Linked DNA regions of Homo sapiens. The protein of the gene in region 5 purifies or fractionates together with the protein of the main gene of each other region. This does not show direct contact. Each region holds a gene or a part of one and is shown on either strand. Other genes may lie near its edges. The genes, in order: GNAI3, RGS20, COPA, CTNND1 and MTNR1B.

The links.
Region 1: the proteins of MTNR1B (region 5) and GNAI3 purify together in Homo sapiens (tandem affinity purification; 2 studies listed by IntAct). This does not show direct contact.
Region 2: the proteins of MTNR1B (region 5) and RGS20 purify together in Homo sapiens (co-immunoprecipitation; one study listed by IntAct). This does not show direct contact.
Region 3: the proteins of MTNR1B (region 5) and COPA purify together in Homo sapiens (tandem affinity purification; 2 studies listed by IntAct). This does not show direct contact.
Region 4: the proteins of MTNR1B (region 5) and CTNND1 purify together in Homo sapiens (tandem affinity purification; one large-scale study listed by IntAct). This does not show direct contact.

The regions. Positions count from the first base shown.
Region 1 is NC_000001.11:109,586,612-109,590,131, reverse strand, and holds part of GNAI3 (guanine nucleotide-binding protein G(i) subunit alpha-3), read right to left. Parts: intron 3,404-3,520; coding exon 3,250-3,403; intron 1-3,249. UniProt on the Homo sapiens protein: Heterotrimeric guanine nucleotide-binding proteins (G proteins) function as transducers downstream of G protein-coupled receptors (GPCRs) in numerous signaling cascades.
Region 2 is NC_000008.11:53,932,872-53,936,391, forward strand, and holds part of RGS20 (regulator of G-protein signaling 20), read left to right. Parts: intron 1-3,520. UniProt on the Homo sapiens protein: Inhibits signal transduction by increasing the GTPase activity of G protein alpha subunits thereby driving them into their inactive GDP-bound form.
Region 3 is NC_000001.11:160,294,740-160,298,259, reverse strand, and holds part of COPA (coatomer subunit alpha), read left to right. Parts: intron 1-514; coding exon 515-704; intron 705-821; coding exon 822-917; intron 918-2,110; coding exon 2,111-2,199; intron 2,200-2,400; coding exon 2,401-2,524; intron 2,525-3,402; coding exon 3,403-3,492; intron 3,493-3,520. UniProt on the Homo sapiens protein: The coatomer is a cytosolic protein complex that binds to dilysine motifs and reversibly associates with Golgi non-clathrin-coated vesicles, which further mediate biosynthetic protein transport from the ER, via the Golgi up to the trans Golgi network.
Region 4 is NC_000011.10:57,792,788-57,796,307, forward strand, and holds part of CTNND1 (catenin delta-1), read left to right. Parts: intron 1-1,222; coding exon 1,223-1,294; intron 1,295-2,789; coding exon 2,790-2,942; intron 2,943-3,520. UniProt on the Homo sapiens protein: Key regulator of cell-cell adhesion that associates with and regulates the cell adhesion properties of both C-, E- and N-cadherins, being critical for their surface stability.
Region 5 is NC_000011.10:92,976,151-92,979,670, forward strand, and holds part of MTNR1B (melatonin receptor type 1B), read left to right. Parts: intron 1-1,008; exon of another isoform or gene 1,009-1,540; coding exon of another isoform or gene 1,541-1,637; intron 1,638-3,520.

The DNA.
Region 1 (3,520 bases), on a different chromosome or scaffold from region 5:
GGCCATGAGGATTAAACTACATCTCAACTTTTTGGCCTACCACCTCACTCAAAATGTTACATATCTGCACTTATTTGTACTTCTGGTCTTAGAGGTGTCTTACTTCTTGCTCAAAAATCAATTGCTCTACCTATACTCTTTTAAAAAAATTATTGAGGAAAATTAACATAACAGATATTTAACCATTTTAAAGTGTACAATTCTGTGGCACTTAGTGTATTCACAATGTTATGCAATCACCACCTCTCTCTAGTGACAAAACTTTTTCAACACCCTATTCCCATTAAGTAATCACTCCCTTTTCTTCCCATTCTCCCACTTCTCATAACCACTAATATTCTTTCTGTCTCTATGGACAGAAATTGCCCTATTTTGGATATATCATATAATAGAAGTATTGGCCTCTTTTACTTAGCACAGTGTTTTGAGTTTCATACAAGTTGTACCATCTATTATTATTCCTTTTCTTGGGTAAGTAATATTCATTGTATGTATATAACACAATTTGTTTATCCATTTATCCTACCTAGACTCTTAATTCCTTTTTTCCCACCTGCTTGCAAATCTTGCTCCTTCAATTACATCTGTTTTTTAATGTATCTCTTTTGCTTATAGGATCTTAGCCCTCAGCCTATAAACATTCTTAAATCTCTCCCTTCCCTTTAAACCCACGTTGCTCAAGAGTAGTCTACACTTGTCTTCTTTCTTCACTTTCCATTCTGTAACTCACTGTACTCAACTTTCCACTGACACTGCTCTCAACAGCAGGTCAACGACCTCCTAACTGTTAACTCCAAAGGCTCTTTTTCAGTATGTATCTTACTTATCTGCAGATAACACTGTTGACTGAAATATTTAATCAACTCACTTTTTAACCTCTCCTTTTGGTTATGATATCTTTCTTCCTCTCCTGCCAATAGAGGCTGCTATTCTCTCTCGTTCTACCTGTGGTCCTTTTTCTCCTCATTCTATAATATTATCTCCATAGGTCATTTCACCCATTTCCATGTTTTCACTACTGATGATCTCAAACCCCAACCTCTCCTCAACCTCGAATATAACTGTCCATGAGATATTATTTCAACGTTCTATGAATAATTAAAAATCAACATTCCTATACATGAATTCAGGTCACAGCACCAGCATCCAAGACAGAAACCTGGGAGTACCTCTGACTCTTCCCACTTCCTTACCCCTGCTTTACCCCTTCACTTTATTGATTGATTGATTGATTGATTGATTGATGGAGTCTCACTCTGTCACCAGGCTGGAGTGCAGTGGTGCGATCTCGGCTCACCGCAACCTCCGCCTCCCGGGTTCAAGCGATTCTCCTGCCTCAGCCTCCCGAGTAGCTGGGATTACAGGCGCACACCACCATGCCCAGCTAATTTTTCTATTTTTAGTAGAGACAGGGTTTCACCACATTGGTCAGGATGGTCTCGATCTCTTGACCTCATGATCCACCTGCCACGGCCTCCCAAAGTGCTGGGATTACAGGCATGAGCCACTGCACCCAGCCTCACTTTATTATAGAAAGCATTTACAGTGTCTCTGCTAATAAGAGTTCCCCTTCTCTGGAAATACCTGATTCTGATCTATAAGTTTCATAGTGATCCATCCCTGGCAGTTACATTTGTGCCCCTGACCTCAACTGATTGGCCTACAGATTTCTGCCTGACTTAACCACGGCCAGAATCTCTCTCCTTGGAATTTGAAACCAAGGCCAAGCAATCCCAGTCTAGTCTGATCTTTTTTTTTTTTTTGCTCAGTCGCCCAGGCTGGAGTGCAGTGGCGCGATCTCGGCTCACTGCAAGCTCTGCCTCCCGGGTTCATGCCATTCTCCTGCCTCAGCCTCCCGAGTAGCTGGGACTACAGGTGCCTGCCACCAAGCCCAACTAATTTTTTTTGTATTTTTAGTGGAGACGGGGTTTCACTGTGTTAGCCAGGATGGTCTCGATCTCCTAACCTCATGATTCACCCGCCTCGGCCTCCCAAAGTGCTGGGATTACAGGCGTGAGCCACCGCGCCCAGCCTAGTCTGATCTTTTTACCAGAGATACAGAAACTGTGACTAGGCTGTTATCACATAAACTGAATAGCAGAGAAAGCTGGTTAGGAAAGAAAGAATAATAAAAAAGATACACAGAGAGGAGAGAAAAAAGATGGGGATAAAGAGTGCTTCCAGGGTTCCTGACAATTATTTCCTAGTTCTAATTCCATTCTAAGACCTGTCCATTCTTGCCCTTGGGTTCTATGATATATCCCTTAATCCCCATCAAAAGTTTTTATTTCCATCCTGAGTTCTTACTAATTCAAATCCCCTACTATCTATCTTTATTATTTATTGCATAATCTTTCTCAAGCACAGTTTCTTCTATATCATGCACCCCATGATATGGATCATGGTAGGATATTAAACCTTTAACTGATCATCGTCTCAGCATGAGATATAAGGCCCTCCATGAGTTGATCTCTGACCATCTCTCCAACCACTTCTTCCCTGCCACTGTAAACTCTAGTAATACCAAATTCCTTCTGGGTTCCACAACTGGTCATACCATTTTCCTACCTCCATATTCTCATATATGCAATTCCTCTTTTCTAAAATGCTTTTATTCCCGTCTGCCTGATGATTTCTATTTCATCCTCTTAGTAGCTCTAGAAAAAGACTACAGTGACCCCATCAGAAGTAACCACTTCTATTCCACTTCTATTAATGCATATTTTACACTATAATAAAATTATTTATGTGCAATTAAACACTATAATAAAATTATTTATGTCTCTCTGCAACTACATGTCAGTCTCTTGGGCACAATGATTAAAATTTACCCTTGTATTTTCTTCAACATATACCAAATTTTACTTTATTTTTTGTGAGGCAGGGGGGTGTCACTATGTTGCCTAGACTGATCTCAAACTCTTGGGCTCAAATGATCCTCCTGCCTCAAGCTTCCAAGTAGCTAGAATTATAGCCACCATGCCCAGCTCCCAAATTTACTTTTTCTCCTTTTGTATTTTCCTCAAAAAATGAAGATAGAAATTTAAAATAAACACAGAAAACTCAATTGTGTCTGATATGGCACTCTTGACTTAGGGGCTTTTAATCACAGGCTTAATGCCAATGCCACTACCACTGAATACTCTCCCAATCAATCATTAAAAAAAAAAAGGCAGTTTTATGAATGCCACCAAAGTGTTGATCTAAGTAAGATGTGTACCTCCAATAAAATCTTTCATAACCCCTTACCTGTGTATTCTGGATAACAGATAGTTAACGGACTCCTCTTTATTTTTTCCTCAAAAAGGTCTTTCTTGTTAAGGAAGAGAATGATTGAAGTTTCTGTAAACCATTTGTTATTACAAATGCTGTCAAACAGTTTCATGCTTTCATGCATTCGGTTCTGAAAAAGAAATAAAGGATGATAGGTCAGTAGCAAATAGTAAAAGTGGATTAAGTTAATGAAAAAGACAAACCAACAAGTTTTGCAGCACTAAATGGCATTCACGGAAATAAGTCA
Region 2 (3,520 bases), on a different chromosome or scaffold from region 5:
GCTCCAACTGGCCTCTGGTGGGTGCCCCTCTGGGATGAAGCTTCCAGAGGAAGGAACAGGCAGCTGTTCTGCAGCCTTTGCTAGTGATACCCTGGCAAACAGGGTCTGGCATGGACCTCCAGCAAACTCCAGCAGACCTGCAGCAGAGGGGCCTGTTAGAAGGAAAGCTAACAAACGAAAGGAATAGCATCAACATCAACAAAAAGGACGTCCACACAGAAACCCCATCCAAAGATCACCAACATCAAAAACCAAAGGTAGATAAATCCATGAAGATGAGGAAAAACCAGTGCAAAAAGGCTGAAAATTGCAAAAACCAGAATGTCTCTTCTACTCCAAAGGATCACAACTCGTTGCCAGCAAGGGAACAAAACTGGACAGAGAATGAGTTTGACGCATTGACAGAAGGAGGCTTCAGAAGGTAGGTAATAAACTCCTCTGAGCTAAAGGAGCATGTTCTAACCCAATGAAAGGAAGCTAAGAACCTTGAAAAAAGATTAGAGGAATTGCTATCTAGAATAACCATTTTAGAGAAGAATATAAATGACCTGATGTAGCTGAAAAACACAGCACAAGAACTTCCTGAAGCATACACAAGTATCAATAGCCGAATTGATCAAGTGGAAGAAAGGATATCAGAGATTGAAGATCAACTTAATGAAATAAAGTGTGAAGACAAGATTAGAGAAAAATGAATGAAAAGGAATGAACAAAGCCTCCAAGAAATATGGGACTATGAGAAAGACCAAATCTACATTTGATTGGTGTACCTGAAAGTGACGGGGAGAATGGAACCAAGTTGGAAAACACTCTTCAGGATATTATCTGGGAGAACTTCCCCAACCTAGCAAGAGAGGCCAACGTTCAAACTCAGGAAATACAGAGAACACCACGAAGATATTCCTCGTAGAGAGCAACCCAAGACTCATAATCATCAGATTCACCAAGGTTGAAATGAAGGAAAAAATGTTAAGGGCAGCCAGAGAGAAAGGTCGGGTTACCCACAAAGGGAAGCCCATCAGACTAACAGCACATCTCTCTGCAGAAACCCTACAAGCCAGAAGAGAGTGGGGTCCAATATTCAACATTCTTAAAGAAAAGAATTTTCAACCCAGAATTTTATATCCAGCCAAACTATGCTTCATAAGCAAAGGAGAAATGAAATCCTTTACAGACAAGCAAATGCTGAGAGATTTTGTCACCACCAGGCCTGCCCTACAAGAGCTCCTGAAGGACGTACTACACACGGAAAGGAAAAACCGGCATCAGCCACTACAAAAATGTACCAAATTGTAAAGACCATCAACACTATGAAGAAACTGCATCAACTAATGGGCAAAATAACCAGCTAGCATCATAATGACAGGATCAAATTCACACATAACAATATTAAGCTTAAATGTAAACAGGCTAAATGCCCCAATTAAAAGATGCAGACTGGCAGATTGGCTAAAGGTCAAGACCCAACAGTGTGCTGTATTTAGGAGACCCATCTCACGTGCAGAGACACACATAGACTCAAAATAAAGGCATGGAGGAATATTTACAAGCAAATGGAAAGCAAAAAGAAGCAAGCGTTGCAATCCTAGTCTCTGATAAAACAGACTTTAAACCAACAATGATCAAAAAAGACAAAGAAGGGCATCATTACATAATGGTAAAGGGATCAACACAACAAGAAGAGATAACTATCCTAAACATATATGCACCCAATAAAGGAGCATCCATATTCATAAAGCAAGTTCTTAGAGACCTACAAAGAGACGTAGACTCCCACACAATAATAGTTGGAGACTTTTACACCCCACTGTCAATATTAGACAGATTAACGAGACAGAAAATTAACAAGGATATTCAGGACTTGAACTCAGCTCTGGACCAAGCAGACCTAATAGACATCTACAGAACTCTCAACCCCATACCAACAGAATATACAGTCTTCTCAGCACCACATCACATTTATTCTAAAATTGACCACATAATTGAAAGTAAAACACTCCTCGGCAAACGCAAAAGAACAGAAATCACAACAAACAGTCTCTCAGGCCACAGTGCAATCAAATTAGAACTCAGGAATAAGAAACTCACTCAAAACCGCACAACTGCATGGAAACTGAACAACCTGCTCTTGAATGACTACTGAGTAAATAATGAAATTAAGGCAAAAATAAATAAGTTTTTTGAAACCAATGAGAACAAAGACACAACCTACCAGTATCTCTGGGACACAGCTAAAGCAGCGTTTAGAGGGAAATTTATAGCACTAAATGCCCAAAGGAGAAAGCAGGAAAAATCTAGAATTGACACCCTAACATCACAATTAAAGAACTAGAGAAGTGAGAGCAAACAAATTCAAAAGCCAGCAGAAGACAACAGATAACTAAGATCAGAGCAGAACTGAAGGAGGACACCAAAAAATCCTTCAAAAAATCAATGAATCAAGGAGCTGGTTTTTGAAAAGATCAACAAAATAGCTAGACCACTAGCCAGACTAATAAAGAAGAAAAGACAGGAGAATCAAATAGACACAATAAAAAATTATAAAGCAGATATCACCACTGATCCCACAGAAATACAAACTACCATCAGAGAATATTATAAACACCTCTACACAAATAAACTAGAAAATCTAGAAGAAACAGATAAATTCCTGGACACATACACCCTCCCAAGACTAAATCAGGAAGAAGTCAAATCCCTGAATAGAACAATAACAAGTTCTAAAATTGAGGCAGTAATTAATAGCCTACCAACCAAAAAAAGGCCCAGGACCAGACAGATTCACAGCCTAATTCTACCAGAGGTACAAAGAGGAGCTGGTACCATTCCAAACAATAGAAACAATAGAAAAAGAGGGACTCCTCCCTAACTCATTTTGAGTCCAGCATTATCCTGATACCAAAACCTGCCAGAGACACAACAAAAAAAGAAAATTTCAGGCCAATATCCCTGATGAACATCAATGCGAACATCCTCAATAAAATACTGGCAAACCGAATCCAGCAGCACATCAAAAAGCTTATCCACCACCATCAAGTCGGCTTCATCCCTGGGATGCAAGGCTGGTTCAACATATGCAAATCAATAAACATAATCCATCACATAAACAGAACCAATGACGAAAACCACATGATTATCTCAATAGATGCAGAAAAGGCCTTCAATAAAATTCAACACCCTTTCATGCTAAAAACTCTCAATAAACTAGGTATTGATGGAATGTATCTCAAAATAACAAGACCTATTTATGACACACCCACAACCAATATCATGTTGAATGGACAAAAGCTGGAAGCATTCCCTTTGAAAACTGGCACAAGACAAGAATGCCGTCTCTTACCACTCCTATTCAACATAGTATTGGAAGTTCTGGCCAGGGCAATCAGGCAAGAGAAAGAAATAAATGGTATCCAAATAGGAAGAGAGAGAGTCAAATTATCTCTGTTTGCAGATGACATGATTGTATATTTAGAAAACCTCATCATCTCAGCCCAAAATCTCCTTAAGCTGATAAGCAACT
Region 3 (3,520 bases), on a different chromosome or scaffold from region 5:
ATGTAATTATTTCCATCTCTGTATCCAAAGGGGTCCTATGTGTTCACTGGATTTTCTTTTTTTTTTTTTCTTTTTTTTGAGGCGGAGTCTCGCTCTTGTTGCCCAGGCTGGAGTGCAATGGCATGATCTCGGCTCACTGCAACCTCCGCCTCCTGGGTCCAAGCGATTCTCCTGCCTCAGCTTCCCGAGTAGGTGGGACTACAGGCGTGCACCATGATTCCCAGCTAATTTTTTTTGTATTTTTAGTAGAGACAGGGTTTCACCATGTTGGCCAGGATGGTCTCGAGCTCTTGACCTCGGGATCCGCCTGCCTTGGCCTCCCAAAGTGCTGGGATTACAGATGTGAGCCACCGCACCCAGCCGATTTTCAATGGAATTAGACTAAAAGCTAGGAGTAATTGAAAGTATAGGAAGTTCTTCAGGAAATCTATATAGATGCAGATGCTTTGCAGAGTCCTTGGTTTTGAGTCACATTGTCCTTCAACCTGTTAACACGACCCTGGGGATTCTTTAGATTGCTCTGGAAGCAGCCAAAGCACTGGATGACAAGAACTGCTGGGAAAAGCTGGGAGAAGTGGCCCTGCTGCAGGGGAACCACCAGATTGTGGAAATGTGCTATCAGCGTACCAAAAACTTTGACAAACTTTCCTTCCTGTATCTTATCACTGGCAACTTAGAAAAACTTCGCAAGATGATGAAGATTGGTGAGGCCCTCAAACTAAGGATGGGAAGAGGGGTTCTTGGGGGAAGGAGGAAGGTGAATTAAGGAGAAAGAGAACTTAAGAGAAAAGACCTAACTTGGTGTCTCTTACTTGGTGCAGCTGAGATCAGAAAGGACATGAGTGGCCACTATCAGAATGCCCTATACCTGGGTGATGTGTCAGAGCGTGTGCGGATCCTGAAGAACTGTGGACAGAGTAAGTATCCGAGACTTGCCAGCTTTTTCAGGGTCTGAGGAAGTATTTTTCTGTTTTTGTTGAGTTAATCTGTGTATAGTGGTGAGGGATTTCTCTTTATTGTGCATTTTTTTAGGAGAGACAACATGCTCCTACTGTGCTTAGAAGATTTTCTTCAAAGCCAAAGGGAGGTGCAGCCAGAATATTCAGTCCAGCCAAACACCCTTAGGAGAATAGTTATTCATGGGGGAGATAGGAGGTTTTAAAAGGTCTTGAGTGGACGCCCTAGTAAATGCACTTGGTTGGATGCCATTAGAATTTTATTCTTTATTTTCAGTTTGGAGGTTTCACTCATTTATTCATGTATATAGTCAAGGGATATTTTTTGAGAACCCACTATATACCAAGCATTATATTAGCATTTAAGATACATTAGGAAACAAGCAAGGTGAAAGATGAGGTTTGGACCAAGGCGCTATTAGTGGAGGGGTGAGCAGTGGTCAGATTCAGGATATATTTTAAGGTAGAAACAACATGATTTATTGCGGTAACTAGATTTGAGATGTAACAGAGAGGAGTCAGGGATATCCAAGGTTCTCAGCACGGATGGATACGTCTCAAAGATAAGCAGCTATATTAGTTCTCTATTTCTGTGTAACAAATTATCCCCAAATTTAGTAGTTTAAAACCACAAACATTTATTATTTCACAATTTGTGGCATGGCTTAGCTAGGTGCCTCCGGCTTAGGATCTCTCATGAGGCTACAGTCAAAGTGTTGGCCAGAACTGCAGATATCTGAAGACTCACCGGGGAGAGAATCTACTTCTGCACTCACTCAATGGCCATTGGCAGCCCCCATGTCCTTGCTCCCTGTTGTCTAAGAAACATCACTTTCTTTTCGTGTTGACCTCTCCATAGGAGTTTGTAACGTGGTAGCTAGTTTCCCTTACAGCAAGTGAGCAAAAGAGGGCACCCCAAGATAGAAGCCACAATCTTTGTAACCAGATCTAGGAAGTAACATCCCATCACATCTGCCATGTTCCATCCATTAGAAGCTATTTAATAAATCCAGCCCACACTTAAGAGGTGGGTATTTTGCAACAACTTGAATACCAGGAGTCAGGGATTACTGGGGGGCCATTTCAGAGGTTGCTTACCACAGCAGCATGCATTTGGAAATGTACCTATACCACAAAGTCTGTTTTCTCTACAGAGTCCCTGGCCTATCTCACAGCTGCTACCCATGGCTTAGATGAAGAAGCTGAGAGCCTAAAGGAGACATTTGACCCAGAGAAGGAGACAGTGAGTCTTTATTTACATAATTGTCTCTTATTACAGGATTAACTCTAGGATCTTAGAACAATTTAAAATTATGAATGTCACTCTCCCACCTGGTTACCAGGAGAGGCAGAGAAACAAATGAGATCAAAGGAGGCTCCATAACTTTCCTTACGTGACTTCCAAGTGCTATTTGTTTTTAGCCTCTTTTCTTCTACTATTCAGATCCCAGACATTGACCCTAATGCCAAGCTGCTCCAGCCACCTGCACCTATCATGCCATTGGATACCAATTGGCCTTTATTGACTGTATCCAAAGGATTTTTTGAAGGCACCATTGCCAGCAAAGGTAAGTACCTATTTCTCCCATAGCACTTTTGTTGTTTGTTTTGTGAAGAACTGTCCTAGAGAATACCATTAGCATTTAGTTTAACTTGTCCTTTTTTTCTGCATGGAGCCTAATGGAATATTGAAATGCCAGTCATTTATGGTGCAGTCTTAAAAACTTAAGATAGCATTTTCAGGTCATTAAAGAAAATTTGGAAAATAGGGAGAAAAAAAGGGATCCCTCTACTACCATCAATAACTTCGGTTAATATTTTGGTGTATTTTCTTAGGTTTTACTATATATGTAGTCATGTTCTTTGTTCAGTATTTTATCATTCATGACATACAATCTTAAAGGTACTAATTCAACTACCTGTAATTCCGGTATGTGGGTATAGGCAGATGTGTGCTATCACCCTCCACCACTTCCACCCTTAACCTCCTCCTGTTTTCTGGGTCTCCTAGTTCATTTCCCGTGAGTAAGAGCCTAAACAGACTCTTGAGCATTTTGTGCCAAACCCCACTCTTTTCTCCACCTCCTCTATCTACCCTATGCCTGATGCCCTGTACACATTGTAGTGGTGGTAGCTTAGCAAAGCGCTCAGGAAGAAATTCAAGAGTTGGTAGCCAAAGGCTGGTAAGTACAAATTATTTAAGAGCCAGTTTTTGGTAGCAGGAAGGCCAGTTCCTTCCATCTGTCTTCTATTCCCTCCCTCTGTGAAAGCTACTGCAAGTTAGCATAACATATATACCACAAAAATAAATAATACACAAAAATAAATAGTAAGTAGGCAGAAGCTTGGCACCTGTTTTTGAAAGGATTTAACCTGCCTACAGAAAAGGCCGTATCTCAGACTTGCTGGACTATAACCAGTTCCGTTCTGTTCCTTCCCTCTGTAGGGAAGGGAGGAGCACTGGCTGCTGACATTGACATTGACACTGTTGGTACAGAGGGCTGGGGAGAGGATGCAGAGCTGCAGTTGGATGAAGGTAAAAGTGCTGTTTTAAGACTGTTCTG
Region 4 (3,520 bases), about 35 Mb from region 5:
CAAAGTACTGGGATTACGCGTGAGCTACTGCACCCGGCTGAGTGATTTTTTTTTTTTTTTTTTTAAGATAGAGAAAGTCCCTCATACTGAGGAGCCTTGCAGTTGAGAGAGAACAGAATTCCAGTTGGAGGATCAAGGAATTTGAGGGAGGCAGCATGCTTGCAGTGTTCCTAGGATTTTTACAGGAACTACAATAGAAAGTTAGGGATGAAATTATATTGAAAGGAGAAAGCTGGACTGCTCAGGTTTGGAGGTCATGGGGAATTCCAGGATTCAGTATGTGGTTGCTCTCTTATTTTTAACTTCTGCTTAGCAGTAAAACCACACCCTTCCTTCTTCCTGAAAGTAATGTTTAACTTCCTCTCCCTGCAGCATTACACTCTATGTAATGGGAGTGGGGTGGAGGAAGAGTCTCCCAAGGTGGTTGGATCTCACTATTCTACTGGAAGAGGAGCAGGCAAATATATTTTTATGTGGTATAATGTCATTAGATTATTTCCTGCTGCTTAAGACAGAGCAACTTCTGGATGACATTTTGGAATGTATTCTGTGGCTCTAATAATTGTTGGTAAAGATATTGAGCCTTCTGTTTTCTTGAGGGGAGTTGGGGTGCTTGTTTTTGTACTTGGAAAGGGAGACTCGTATCTCTTGCTTTTTTCTTTAATTAAATTTCTGTTTTTTACATTAGGACATGATAGCCATCTTGCTTCTTTCTTTAAAAAGCTGCCTGGAATGGGAGTTTCCAGTGGTAGTACTGCATGAAGATTCATGAGACTATAAAGCTCTTTGGAAACCCCCCAACTTAGCCCTTCCAACTTTCCTTACATTTTTATGGCTTTCCAAAAAGGTTGCATGTAAGGGAAATTATCTAGGTCTGTGCTGTTTATTCAGCAAATAGTTTTTGAGCACCTGTTATGTGCCAGGCACTGTTCAAGGCACTAGACTAAACTAAACTTATCCCAAAAAACCCTCTGCCCTCGTGGAGTTTACGTTCTTATGTTCCAGAGACCCTGTCTGCCAGAGTTCCAGGCCTGATTTTCAATTTTGAGGAAAGTGCTAAGACTAAAGAGTGAATGGTTCTTTTATGAGTACTGACACAAGGACTCCAGGCCACACATATCTTCTTGAAAGCCCTTTTCCTGTTTGAAAAAAAGATCGTTTGTATTTGATAGAGCAAAAGAAGGCCACAAAATGAATTGTCTTCTTGTGGGCTGTGTTTCAGAACGGCCGGTTTGTGGGCGATGCTGACCTTGAAAGACAGAAATTTTCAGATTTGAAACTCAACGGACCCCAGGTAATTCTTTGGCTCAAGACCTGGGTTGCTTCATTCATATTTTCTTATTTCCCCAGCCTATAAGAGCATATTTGTGTCTTGTAAGGTGCCTGGCACATTGTACATACTCGTCAATTAGTTTCTTTTATTTACGAAAACAAAGAAGTGGAGCTCCAAAGTATATATGCAGTTTTGTTTTGGAATGAATTTTAATGACCATTGATCTTTATGACTATTCCTCCTCCCCACTGCCACCCCATTTGATCCCTAAGTACTGCGTTTCTTTTCTAGAGACAGTAGGCTTCTACTTTGCAGCAAAAAACCCTACCTAAAATCTGGCTGGTCTTGAGCCTTTTAGACGGTATCTGAAGAGTAACATAAAGCCAGTCAAAAGATGGCTCTTACTGGGATTTTCAGGTTTGTCTTAAAAGTTCTTTATTTTTGGCCAGGCATGGTGGCTCATGCCTGTAATCCCAGCACTTTGGGAGGCTGAGGTGGGCAGATCACCTCAGGTCGGGAGTTGGAGACCAGCCTGACCAACATGGAGAAACCCCGTCTCTACTGAAAATACAAAATTAGTCAGGCGTGGTGGCACATGCCTGTAATCCCAGCTACTCGGGAGGCTGAGGCAGGAGAATTGCTTGAAACCAGGTGGCGGAGATTGTGGTGAGCTGAGATCATGCCATTGTACTCCAGCCTGGGCAACAAGAGCAAAACTCTGTCTCAAAAAAAAAAAAAAAGTTCTTTATTTTAGACTGGGCACGGTGTCTCATGCCTGTAATCCAACACTTTGGGAGGCCAAGGCAGAGCAAAACTCCGTCTCAAAAAAAAAAAAAAAACAAAGTTCTTTATTTTGGCCAGGCGTGGTTTGCTCATTCCTGTAATTCCAGCACTTTGGGAGGCTGAGGCTGGAGGATTGCTTGAGCCCAGGAGTTCAAGACCAGCCTGGGCAACATAGACCCTGTCTCTACAAAAAAAATAAAATTAGCCAGGCATGGTGGCGTGAGCCTGTAGTTCTAGCTACTCAGGAGGCTGAAATGGCAAGATTGCTTGAGCCTGGGAGGTTGGGGCTCCAGTGAGCTATGATCATGCCACTGCACTCTAGCTTGGGTGATAGAGTGAGACCCTATCTCAAGTAAATAAATACAAGTTATTTATTTATTGGGTGAGCTGCTCTTTTGAGGGATCACTCAGATATAGATGAAACTGCATTTAACACAGTTCATGTTCACTTAGATGACCACAGCTGGGAAGTTAAATCTACTGTCTGTCACTTGGATGTTGATGTGGCTATAGTTAGTTCATGTTTGTTAAATGACTACAACTGGGAAATTATGTCTACTGTCCTTTTGTACAAGTTCAAAAGATGACAGCCACCCATCTAAAAATCCTGAGGCCTATAGAAGATGCATGAGGAGTCCCTGTCTCCAGGTTTACCACTTATGCTTCTTATTAGGATGGCTTGTTATACATAGCACTTAATAGTAGTTTCTTCTCTTTTCTCTTTTGCATATAGGATCACAGTCACCTTCTATATAGCACCATCCCCAGGATGCAGGAGCCGGGGCAGATTGTGGAGACCTACACGGAGGAGGATCCTGAGGGAGCCATGTCTGTAGTCTCTGTGGAGACCTCAGATGATGGGACCACTCGGCGCACAGAGACCACGGTAAACTAAGACGTGTGTAAGATCTGGAAGTGATAAGAGGTCTTTTCTTCTCTATTAGGGGAGGGGTTAAGCACTTAATTAAGATGGAGGACTGATATGCCATTATTGATCTGATTGCATGAAGTGATCTCTGGCCAGATAGAAAGGATGAAGAGATGGGAAAATCTTATGGGATAGGGAAGACAGAAGGTATATCAGGGTCTATAGTAGCTTCCCTTATAAGCATAGTTACTGTCAGGGCAATTTTCCTGCTTGGGGACTTCCTATAGGATGGAAAGAAAGATAGATGGTAGGCTTTAAGGCATTCCTAGGTAAAGTGACCTAGGGATATAAAGATTTGTTTCTTTTGGAGTGGTATAGAATTTAATTGTTCATGGCTGGGCGCGGTGGGTCACGCTTGTAATCCCAGCCCTGTGGGAGGCTGAGGTGGGCGGATCACGAGGTCAGGAGTTTGAGACCAGTCTGGGCAACATAGTGAAACCCCGTCTCTACTAAAAATACAAAAAATTAGCCAGGTGTGGTGGTGTGTGCCTGTAATACCAGCTACTCGGGAGGCTGAGGCAGGAGAATTGCGTGAA
Region 5 (3,520 bases):
TATCTCCAGAAAGCTGGATTCTGCATTCGGATATGATATACCACAAAATTCAGAGAATACTGAAAGCTCCTACTGGCTCTTTCAATTTAAAATACTTACTGCTGGAGGAGTAGAGATAGAGAATTGGGAAGTAAAGCCCCAGTTCTTAGGGAGTTTGCCATCTAGAAGGAATGTCCTACTTTCTTCATCTTCATGTCCTTACTACTTCTCACATCTTATCTCACAGGGATCCCAGTCCAACCTTATGAGCCTCTTTCTTGATCTGTCAGTACAGCTAATAATATAAAACAGTAATAACAAATAATAGCTAATATTACTAGTGCTTGTTATATGCCAGATTCAAGTCTCTTTCCTTTAAGAGAGAAAGAAAAGGCAAAAAAAGCCCTCCACTGTCCCCTATCAAAGGGATATTCCTTCCTAAGCGCCACTCTCTATCTCCTTCTTTTGAAGGCAACACTGATAGAGCAATCTCCAGGGCAAAACTGGATCCCCAAGCTCTCAACAGAATTTGTTCTTGTTAATGTCACTACTGCCTTCCTAACTACCAAGTCCAATGAGCACTTTTCTGTCCTTTCTCACTTTTGTAGATGACCAAGAAACTCTCTACACCCTTTCTCTTAATTCCCTTGATATTTCTTTTCTTTGGTTTTCTCCTCTTCTTGTTCTTTCTCAATCCTTCTGTGTTATGGCTATGAGCAATTCACACAAACTGGGTGTCTGTTTCTTTATCTATAAAACAGAAATCATGCTGTCAACCTTAAGGAATTCTTGTGAAAAACAATGGAGTCCATTTATGTAAAACTATACTATCAACTTCACCATGTTATATCAATGGTTGTTTTGTTGCTATTAAGTGTAAAGTAATAAAATGTTACCTATCAGAATTTCAAAATGATCTCTTTTGATGGTTATTGAAGAATATTTTGTAAAGCATCTTAGTTATGTTTTTAAATGGATGCTTATGTTCTTAAATATATTTTCTTCTTTTAAGTGGTTGAAATACCCCCATATATATCTGTGTACACTATTGATTAGCCAGTTTTTGTTTTCTAATTAAATCAAAGTTAGATTTCAACTCAGCTCTTGTATGATTCATCCACACATCCTAAGATTTTCATAAATATGTGACTTTGGAAGAAAAAAATATCTGCTCTCAAGAGATTTGGGAATCTAATTACAAGCTTACAATAAATGCATTGTTTTAGTGTTTGTTTGAAAATCAAGTTGTGAATAAATTATATGGTCAATTATTTCAAATGCCCATCCCCAGAACATAATAAGAATATCTCACATTAATTTGGTGATTATTGTTATTTCTCATGACCTTTCCCATACAACATCTTATTTGAGGTAAACAGCCATTCTGGGAGTTAGGAGTTCTGTTGCAAAAGTCTTGGTAATTTTGTGTAGCTCCTTGGTGAATTGTCGTGCCTGACCAACCCCATATCCTGCCATTGTCCCCAGTCCCAAGTTGACTCACAAATTCCCCACTGTTCCCACCACCTTGTTCTGGCCTTTCTTCCAGCTCTCACCTAATTGAATGGCTACTGTTTTCTTTTGTTTCCCTAACAGTTCCATGGGCATCTCAATGGCAGGGGCCATGTCTTTCATCCATCACTGCGTCTTACTTGAATGTGGTAGGCACTCAATAAATATATTACACATTTAAACAGATGGAAGAGTGGAAGAAGACCTCAAGGCACAGAAAGTTTAACACTGTTAGAAAACATAGATCATTTGTTGACTTCCCCAACATATCCCTCTTGGCACCTTGTTTTTATTTGTTTAATGGTCTTCCCTAAGAGACCATAAACTTTATAAGGGGAGGTAGCCTGTCCATCTGGCATAGTCAAAGGCAGAACCTAGTATATACTCAGCAATATTTGTCACATAAATGACTTGATGATTCTCTCTTTCTATCTTGTCTTTTAGCTCAATGACCAAGGAGAATTTATGTCTAACCAAATTTTTCTTCTGAGCATGGAGGGTGAGCACAGAGGAGGGGGGCAAGGGTTACAGGGAGCTTTACCTTCCAGAATTCTCCTATCTGACGAATATTAGATAGCTCAGCACTGGCTGGCTCTTTCCTAGATTACCAGATCTCCATTAAGAAATACATTTTCCAGAAAGAAAGAGAGAGGAAGAGAAGAGGGAGGAGACTGTGATGGTTGTGTGTGTGAAAGGATGCGCTCTGCGTATGAATCCTGAAGGGGATTCCATGTTAGTAAACAAAGCCCTCTTGTCAAAGCCTCTCTCCACTAATACACCCTATCTGCTGGAGGCAGATGGAAACGAGTCACGCCAGGACCCATGACATAAATATTCATTATGCACACGGTGACTGCAGTGCTGTGTGCATACTGAGTGATTTCTCACCTGTCTGGGGAAGAAATGGATGGAGAACTGGATCTCCCCTTGACTATCATCCACATAGGACCTGGCTTCTTACAGATGGAAGACAAAACACAAATTTTATTCATCTAATTTGGAATTGTGCCAAGAAAGCCTGGAGACAGTGGGATGTCTGGGCAGATGAATCTATAGCAGGAAGTGGTTGATTTCAGCCTTTTAGGAACAGCCAGAGTAATAGGGGATAGTAATTGAATCACTTTCCACATGGAGTTGAATGTGTTCTTCTTACTATTTACAAGCTGTTTGCCAGCCTCTGGGGCATTATTAGGGGATAAGCCACATTAACACAGCAGAACTTGACTCTGCCTTCACAGGGAAACAGCTGGCAGAGCTGGCACCGGCTCCCAGCAGCTCTTGACTTTCTCTGCTCAGCTTGCAAGTGCCAAGAGCTTGTGTGTTGCTGGGCCAGGTGCCCAGCGGGTCCTATGGAGACTCATCTTCCTGTGCTGGAGAGAAGTGATTCTCTTCACAGAACCAACCCTATGAGTGTGCAGGGGGAAGTGATGGCAGAGCTCTGAAAGAAAAGAAAGGAGCTCATGTAGGAATAGTCACCAAGAAAGGAACTCGGGAACTCGCCCAAATTCATTCAACCATAAAGTGGCAGGACTCAGATTATCCCAGATTTCTCTGACTTCAGCACAACCCTCCAGATTTCAAAAGGACACATAAAATTCTCAGGAGACAAGGGTTCCTGATTCAGCTGAAGACAAGCAATGTGAGAGAGGGAATCCCTCATGTTCTTGGAACCAAGTGAGGTCTGTGTAGATGAGTCAGAGATGGAGATCCAGCAGTGGAGACAGCCAGCGGGCTGAGAATTAAATTAAAAGGCACAAAACCCCTCCACATCCCAAGCAGGTCCTTGTTGCACATTTTTTGCCTTGCTGTACCAACCAGAAAGGAAATGAGGTCATTTTTAACCCATGAAGTAAATAAATCTGTGAATAGTAGAGTAGGTAGGAATCCAGCAGTTCAGTTGAGTCATGATTCTCCTTTGCCATCCAACTTGCTGGACAATCTTGAGACAGGGAAACTCACTACCTCACAAGCGCTCTAATTGTCCAGACAATCTCCTTTCTATTCAGTTACATCCTGTCTCCCTGGTTTCCTA